2 linked regions of the Homo sapiens genome follow. The protein of the gene in region 1 interacts with the protein of each later gene in a pairwise test. Each region holds a gene or a part of one and is shown on either strand. Other genes may lie near its edges.

Region 1 (3,911 bases):
GTTGGACATAAGTCTGTTTCCACTTTCCCAGAGCAGTGGTTGGCTTTACTATCTTAATGTCTTCGAGTCCTGGTAAGCCAGGCCAACATGTAGTTTGCCACTTTCTTCAGTGGCTTCTGCTGCATGGAGATCATGACCTTTGTCCCGCTGACTTCTTGTAGCTGAAAAGACTGGGTTTTTGTTTTTTGCTAGTGTCTTTCAAGATCACTTTTTATTTCTCAGCTCTTGTTGGCTGGACCCTTTAAAAACCCTTAACAGGAAACAGCAACATCCTGCATCCCATTTTAAATCTGTTATTTTTATAGATTGCTGTCCAGTGAAGGAGACTGATTGCTATTTGTGATGTTTCTGTTCCACTTGTCTTTTTGTAAAGACATCACAGGAAGATGGAGGACCACACAGCTGTCAGGAGGAGGCTCAAACCAAGGTGCTCATCGCTCTGAACTTCCCCCTTTACATGGTTTCTGCCTTGGCCAGACACTTTTCCATGACCTTCTAATCTCCCTCTGATCTCACCATTCTTGCCATCTCTGCAACACTCATGGCTGTTTATACTTCATTTCCGTCTATTGTAATGGTTATGAGGAATCAGACTTGTCAGAGAATTCTGTAGGAGATGATATGTACATGGAAATCCTAGAGGCCATGACTTGGAAGAAGGATCTAATCAGGCCCTTAACTGTATCACTGACAACAGTAAAAATAACTGTAGATTTTAGAAAAATGAAATTTTTATTCTCAATTCTCCTCATTTCTTCTTTGATTTTGAAACAAAATGAAAGGGTAACATGAAAAACAGGCTAGAAACTGGAGCTTATTGCTCTCTAAGCAATGCAAATCACATCATTTTAATAAACTACAGAAGTCAAAACCGAGTTTTCATATTTTGCATGGGAAGTATCACATTTTTAAAAATTACTGCAGATAATCAAGTTTTCTTTGCCAATATGCTATGTTTTTGATAAAAGGAAGTAGAAAATAGCTATAGTTTGAAAATAATATATTTTAAAAAGAGGTGAGCCTGTATATTTTTTAGGCAAGCACTTTTCTTAGGGGAATTAGCTAAATTATTATCTCAATTTTCTATGTAGTTTAGCCTCTCAACACCGGTAGTAAAGTAGTCAAAAACCTACCTTTATATTTCTGGATACTTTGGTTTTTTTGATGCCAGACTAGCTTTCTGGAAACGTGTCAGTTGGCTACCAGGATCGGTGGCAAATTCCACTGCCAGGCTAGATTGGGGCAGGTGGGGAGAGAGAGGCACTATGTCTCTATCAGAAAGTCACTGAAGAAACACTGTTTTTGGACGAGTTCAAGCCTCATCTAGATTTTTAGTCCAGTAGAAGATCGCGACCACCTCTGCCCCTCCATAGCCTACAGCCAGAGTTTTAGAGTACCAGGCCTTGCAGCTTGGTGGAGATGATGTACAATGGATGCTACCTGGAGGCAGGGACTGTGTATTATAATGGCGCCGTCCCCTGTGCCTAGTACACCGTAGTTTGACACAAAATAAGCACTTTGTAAATTTAGTCCGAAGGAATGGAAATCTCATCCTACAATCCATTCAGTTATTAATAGAGCAACTGAGGCCCAGAGACGGGCAGTGGCCTGCCTGCCTACAGCTTCGTAGAGAGTTCTCAGCATGCTTACTTTTTTTTTTTGAGATGGAGTCTTGCTCTGTCGCCCAGGCTGGAGTGCAGTGGCGCGATCTTGGCCCACTGCAGCTTCCATCTCCTGGGTTCAAGTGGTTCTCCTGCCTCAGCCTCCCGAGTAGCTGGGACTACAGGCAGCCACCACCACGCCCAGATAATTTTTGTATTTTTAGTAGAGATGGGGCTTCACCATGTTGGCCAGGGTGGTCTCGAACTCCTGGCTTCAGGTGATCCACCCGCCTTGGCCTCTCAAAGTGTTGGGATTACAGGTGTGAGCCACCATGCCTGGCCCAGTGTTCTTTTCATGAAAATAAAATTTCTTTTTTTATATAGCATATGAGCTCATAACTGGCACTGTATAGCACCTGAGCATGTTTTGATTTGGTCTTTCTTGTTGAGGGGCCTTGTTACGTTATACCCTGGTGTCTAGACTTTGGCCCAAAACCTTTGAGATGGAGAGCCGGTGTCTGTGGTACTGTTTGCAATCTCTGGTTCTACACTCAGGGTTCATTCATGTAGATGCAAATACAGATGGTATCATAACTTCCAACCTCTCTGTTCCTCATCACAGCTGTTCAGTCTCGCTTGAAGACAGATTACGGAAGGACGAGGCCAAATCCAGATTTTGTGGTGTGAAAATTTACCCTGGTGTGTTATCACTACCAGGGGATCTGACCTCAGCCAGGAGCAGTGAGAGCCTCCTCTCCCCAGCCATGCTGAGCGCTGGCCTAGGACTGCTGATGCTGGTGGCAGTGGTTGAATTTCTCATCGGTTTAATTGGAAATGGAAGCCTGGTGGTCTGGAGTTTTAGAGAATGGATCAGAAAATTCAACTGGTCCTCATATAACCTCATTATCCTGGGCCTGGCTGGCTGCCGATTTCTCCTGCAGTGGCTGATCATTTTGGACTTAAGCTTGTTTCCACTTTTCCAGAGCAGCCGTTGGCTTCGCTATCTTAGTATCTTCTGGGTCCTGGTAAGCCAGGCCAGCTTATGGTTTGCCACCTTCCTCAGTGTCTTCTATTGCAAGAAGATCACGACCTTCGATCGCCCGGCCTACTTGTGGCTGAAGCAGAGGGCCTATAACCTGAGTCTCTGGTGCCTTCTGGGCTACTTTATAATCAATTTGTTACTTACAGTCCAAATTGGCTTAACATTCTATCATCCTCCCCAAGGAAACAGCAGCATTCGGTATCCCTTTGAAAGCTGGCAGTACCTGTATGCATTTCAGCTCAATTCAGGAAGTTATTTGCCTTTAGTGGTGTTTCTTGTTTCCTCTGGGATGCTGATTGTCTCTTTGTATACACACCACAAGAAGATGAAGGTCCATTCAGCTGGTAGGAGGGATGTCCGGGCCAAGGCTCACATCACTGCGCTGAAGTCCTTGGGCTGCTTCCTCTTACTTCACCTGGTTTATATCATGGCCAGCCCCTTCTCCATCACCTCCAAGACTTATCCTCCTGATCTCACCAGTGTCTTCATCTGGGAGACACTCATGGCAGCCTATCCTTCTCTTCATTCTCTCATATTGATCATGGGGATTCCTAGGGTGAAGCAGACTTGTCAGAAGATCCTGTGGAAGACAGTGTGTGCTCGGAGATGCTGGGGCCCATGATCTGGGAAGAAAAGTGTGGTCAGGACACTCTTGGGACGCTCTTTTGATAGCTCTCTATAAGGGAGCTGCTTTCCATGTCTTTTAAGATTTTCCTTCTTTTACACCAATGTAATGAATGAGCAACAGAAAATACGGATCAAAACCCAATACTATGTCTCTTTTGGCAATGCAAAGTATATTTTTTTAATGTACCACAGAAATCAAGGCTAGGGCTTCATGTTTGGTAAAAGAGGTATTATATTCTCTCTACATATAGCAAATAATTCATATATAAATCGTGTTTTTCCTATTATAAAAAGCAGAGATTAGGAACAATTCTGTCTACATATAGCAAAAATTCATATATAAATTGTGTTTTTCCTAGTATAGAAAACAGAGATTAGGAACAATTATAGTGATCATTAATTTTTATGAAATTTTACCTATACATTAATGTTAGTCATTTTAGATATGCTTTTTAAAAAGTATCAAATAATTTCCCCATTTCTCTGCTGTAATGTATCTAATTATCTAACTGAAAAACAAAACAAAACATCTTTATATTTCTGGAAGTTTCTTTGAGCCCTAGCCTTGGCTTTCAGAATAAAAATCAGGCTCACGCCTGTAATCCCAGCGCTTTGGGAGGCTGAGGCGGGCGGATCACGAG
Region 2 (3,911 bases), on another chromosome or scaffold:
GCTCCTTGATGGCCACGGCGCGGTGGCCGTGGCGGGGCCGTGGCACCGGACCCGACCAGCCCACCACTCGCTTCCAGCGGGGCTGCAGAAGCACCGCTGGCAAGTTGGCGGGCGACACGGCCGAAGCCATAGTTCCGGGAAAGGGTGCGGTGGGGAGAAGTCAACAAGCGGGAAGGGAGCCCCTCAATTCCTTTCACACACCCCCTTTCGTCTAAGGCAGCTCTCACGGAGAAGCGGTTTCTCACACAGCGGTAGACGACTCCATGGAGGCCGCCATCTTAACTGCCCTCCTTCCCTTTGGCTCTTCCCTTTCTTCTCGCTCACCCCGTCTCCGCAAGAGCCGCCCGAAACTGTCGAGCGCCTAGGCTCAAGAAGCTGGAGGCCGCTGAGTCCCGTCGCCCCGACTACTTGTCCGGGCGCTCCCGCTTACAAGCTCGGGCGGGAGGCCCTGGGAGCCGCCATCTTGAGCCGCCTCTCTCTCCTCCCTTCCTCAGTCGTAGCCCTCCCCCGCCGGAAATGGCGGAGCCCCGGCCCGGTTCCCACACCCCCAAGTCCCCAGCACTGGCCGGCTTCCGGGGCGGGTGGAAAGGAGCCACAAGCGCCGCGGTCGTCGCAGCCCCGCCGGCGCTCAGACCACAATTGTGGGAGCCGCCATCTTGAGACCGTCCCGCTTCCCCGCCCAGCGCCTTAGTGCAGCCGCCGCTCCCGAAACAGCCTCGACACACCTAACGAATGGAGGCGGGCCGGAGGCCGGTGGAACCAGCTCGAGCTCTCGAGGGCCGTTTGGGGGCTCGCGCCGTACGGCTTGTGAAGTCTCGCGCCTCTCCCCTTAGTCCGCCTCTGCTGCTCAGGCTGCGCCTGCCGCCGTGGGAGCCGCCATCTTGAGACTAGCTCCCCGTTCCCCCCTATTCTCTTCCTCCTAGGTCAGTTCTTCCACTGCACACCAAACTCAAGGCGGTGTCCGATCCTCACTTCCCGCCTTATGACTCCTTCCCACAGGAGCCGCTTCAAAGAGCTAGAGTTAGGCCCCGAAGCGGCAACTGTACGGCAGAAGAAGCGGTAACGGCAGGGCGCTCATGCCTCCTCCCTGGGAGCCGCCATCTTGTGTGAAGAAGTAACAACTAAACATGGCGGCAGCGGCGCCGGCGGTCGGGCGAGGAGGCGGAGCCGGGTGACGTCACCGCTTCCCCCCACTCGCCCTCGCACCGCTTCGCCCCTGGGCCCAAGCCTCTTAAAGGACCCCTGCGCTGCCTCGCGGCGGGGGTGGGGGTCGGCGCTGCCGCGCGCTGGGCTAAAGCTCGAGTCGCGCTCAGATCAGGTGCAGGCGCAGGCGCGCCCCGCCCCACGGCCCCCCCACCGGGCGAGCCTCCACGCCTCCGCCCTGGGAGCCGCCATCTTGCCACTTCCCCTCGCCCGGCCGTCCGCGGGCGTCAATAGCGACTTTCAGCACAAAACAAAGATGGCGGCGGCGGCATCTCGGAAATGCCCGGATGAGACTGCTAACCCCTCCGACGCGCTCGGCCCCGCCCCCTTGGGAACGGTCTCTCGGGTTGATAAGGGACGCACGCCCGAAGAACTGCCTTTAACCAGCACTGGGGACAGCGGCACGCAGGTGGCCGGGGTTGGCGAACAGCCACTGCAGCCGCGCCTGCGGCCGGGAAGCGAGCATTTTCGCGCCCTGCACACCCAGCAGCCGCAGGAGGCGGCCCGAGGCGCGCCGCGGGGGAGCCGGGGGCGGGGCGACAGTGGGAGGCGACGCAGCCGAGCGCCGGCGCCCGGGGGTGGAGCCTCCGCCCGCTCCCAGGCTCCCAGGCTGCGGGGCCCGCCCTCGGGCGCCACCGCCTCCGCCCGCGCCGCAGCAAAATGAGCCGGGCCGCGCGCCCCAGACCGCCGCGCGCTCGGCCGCCCCCACTGCCGAGAGGCCCGCAGTCGGGCCGGTGGCGCACGAGCCGGGCGGGCGACCGCGGGAGGCGTCCGCGTCATCTCGCGTCACCTCGCCCCGCCCGCTTCCCAGGCTTCGAGTCCCGCCCTGCGCGCAGGCGCACCGGCGCTGCTCGGATCCTCCCTTTTCGGAGATTTGAATTTCCCCCAGCGAGGCGAGTGAGGCGAAATACCCGTATGGTGATAGCTGGCCTTTTCGCGCCAATACTGTAAGTGCTCACCGCAGCCCTGGGAGGTGGGTCCCGGCCTCGCCCCCACGTTTCGCCTCCTCTAGGAGGCCGCCCGGGCGCGGCGGCGGCGGCGGCGGCGGCGGCATCCGCCCTGCCACGCGCAGGCCGCAGCGCGGGGACCCAAGCTGCTGCCCGGGAGCGGCAGTCGCCAGTAGAAATGGACAGACCGGTCCTGTCAGAGCCTGTGGCTTTTGTTGTAAACGTCTAGAAGTTCAGTTAAATTACAAGATCTACCAGATCTACCGGCGGGCAGAATTATTACTTTGAAGTTACTGAAGTTATGCGTCCTGCTGGAAGACCTTGTAATTTAATGCGTTAGTAAAGAAGCACACGTCACCCTCTCACACATTTTCAACAATATTTTTAAAGTCGCCTCTCAACATATTACATGTATTTTGTAATCGTCTGTGTTTTAGTTCATGCAGTTGGAAGTATCCATTTGAGAAGGGACAAAGAGAAGAATTCTTGCCTGTCTGTGCCACCACCTGCTCTTTGTGACCTTGGCTAGTTACCTCACATATGTCCCCAAGTCCCCCACCCATGGTAAATAAGAAAACTAAGGCCTGATGCGTTGGCTCATGCCTGTAATCCCAACACTTTGGAAGGCTGAGGTGGGAGGATTGCTTGAGCCTAGCCGGGGCAACATAGCGAGACCCGGAGGCATGGTGGCACACGCCTGTGGTCCCAGGTACTTGGAACGCTGAGGTGGGAGGATGGCTTGAGCCAGGGAGTTCAGGGCTGCAGTGAGCTGAGATCGCGCCACTGCTCCAGCCTGGGCGACAGAGCAAGACCCTGTCTCAAAAACACACACACACACACACACACACACAAAAGCAGCTGCTGGTTTCCAAGGGCCTTGCCTGGAATCAGTCCAGAAGCTAAATTAATGTTAATTGATATTCCTTTATCCACAGAAAGACAGCAAGAAAGGTCATGCGGAGCGGGGGACATAACTAACCATAAATGCTAAAGGCCTGGAGGTGACAGTGCCTGCTGTTTAAACGCGTGCGGGAGAGTCTGGGGCCTTTAGCCAGGAGATTGTCAGGCTTCCCAGGGCTTCCCTGAAAGACCCCAGACCCAGGGGCCAGTGCTGTTGAGGTGTTGGCTTTCCCATGCCAGGCGCTGGGGGAAGCTGTGACGAGATTTGAGTGTCACATAATAAGGATCATGGCAATTCAAAGGTACAGGGAAGCTAGGCTATAAGGTAACCAGCTCGGTTTTCCTGGGGGTCTTGGACAGGTGCTTTGATTACATGGTCACTGTCAGCCCGTACCCCCGGTCAGATAGACTGAACCCCTGCAGCCGGAAAGAGGAGTTGCTTTCCATGCCCTTCCTGGAGTTCTTCCTCGATCAAGTTGACAGTGTTTGACTCTTGTTCCAGCTCTCCGCCCTGCTTGCTGGCAGGCAGGAGGGTCAGACTAGCATGGGTGCCATGGGGCCCTAGGTGGGTGCAGGGAAGGACCTGTAGACGCCATGCGGGGCCTCAGCTGGTGTCTCAGCTGGAGTCAGGAGCTGAACGGGGAAGTGCCTGAGAGGAAATGACAGCTGAGTCAAGGGCAATGGCCAGGCGAAGTGGGCAAAGGGCTTCCAGGACAGAGCTGGGCCTGAGGAGCTCACAGGGCTGGATGGGGATGGCACTTTAAGTCTGGCCAAGACTTTGGGACATGATCCAGGACATGGAATGGGAAGCTGGTCATGGAAGGGTGGAAAGCCAGGGCAGACATGATCCCATCCAGGGCT

What was found.
Region 2: the proteins of TAS2R5 (region 1) and TMEM187 interact in binary tests that used the Homo sapiens proteins (3 or more experiments, as listed by UniProt).

The regions. Positions count from the first base shown.
Region 1 is NC_000007.14:141,787,997-141,791,907, forward strand, and holds TAS2R5 (taste receptor type 2 member 5), read left to right. Parts: upstream 1-2,220; 5' UTR 2,221-2,365; coding exon 2,366-3,265; 3' UTR 3,266-3,371; downstream 3,372-3,911.
Region 2 is NC_000023.11:153,970,711-153,974,621, forward strand, and holds the start of TMEM187 (transmembrane protein 187), read left to right. Parts: upstream 1-2,043; 5' UTR 2,044-2,150; intron 2,151-3,911. Other genes in the region: HCFC1 (host cell factor 1), read right to left, coding at 1-130.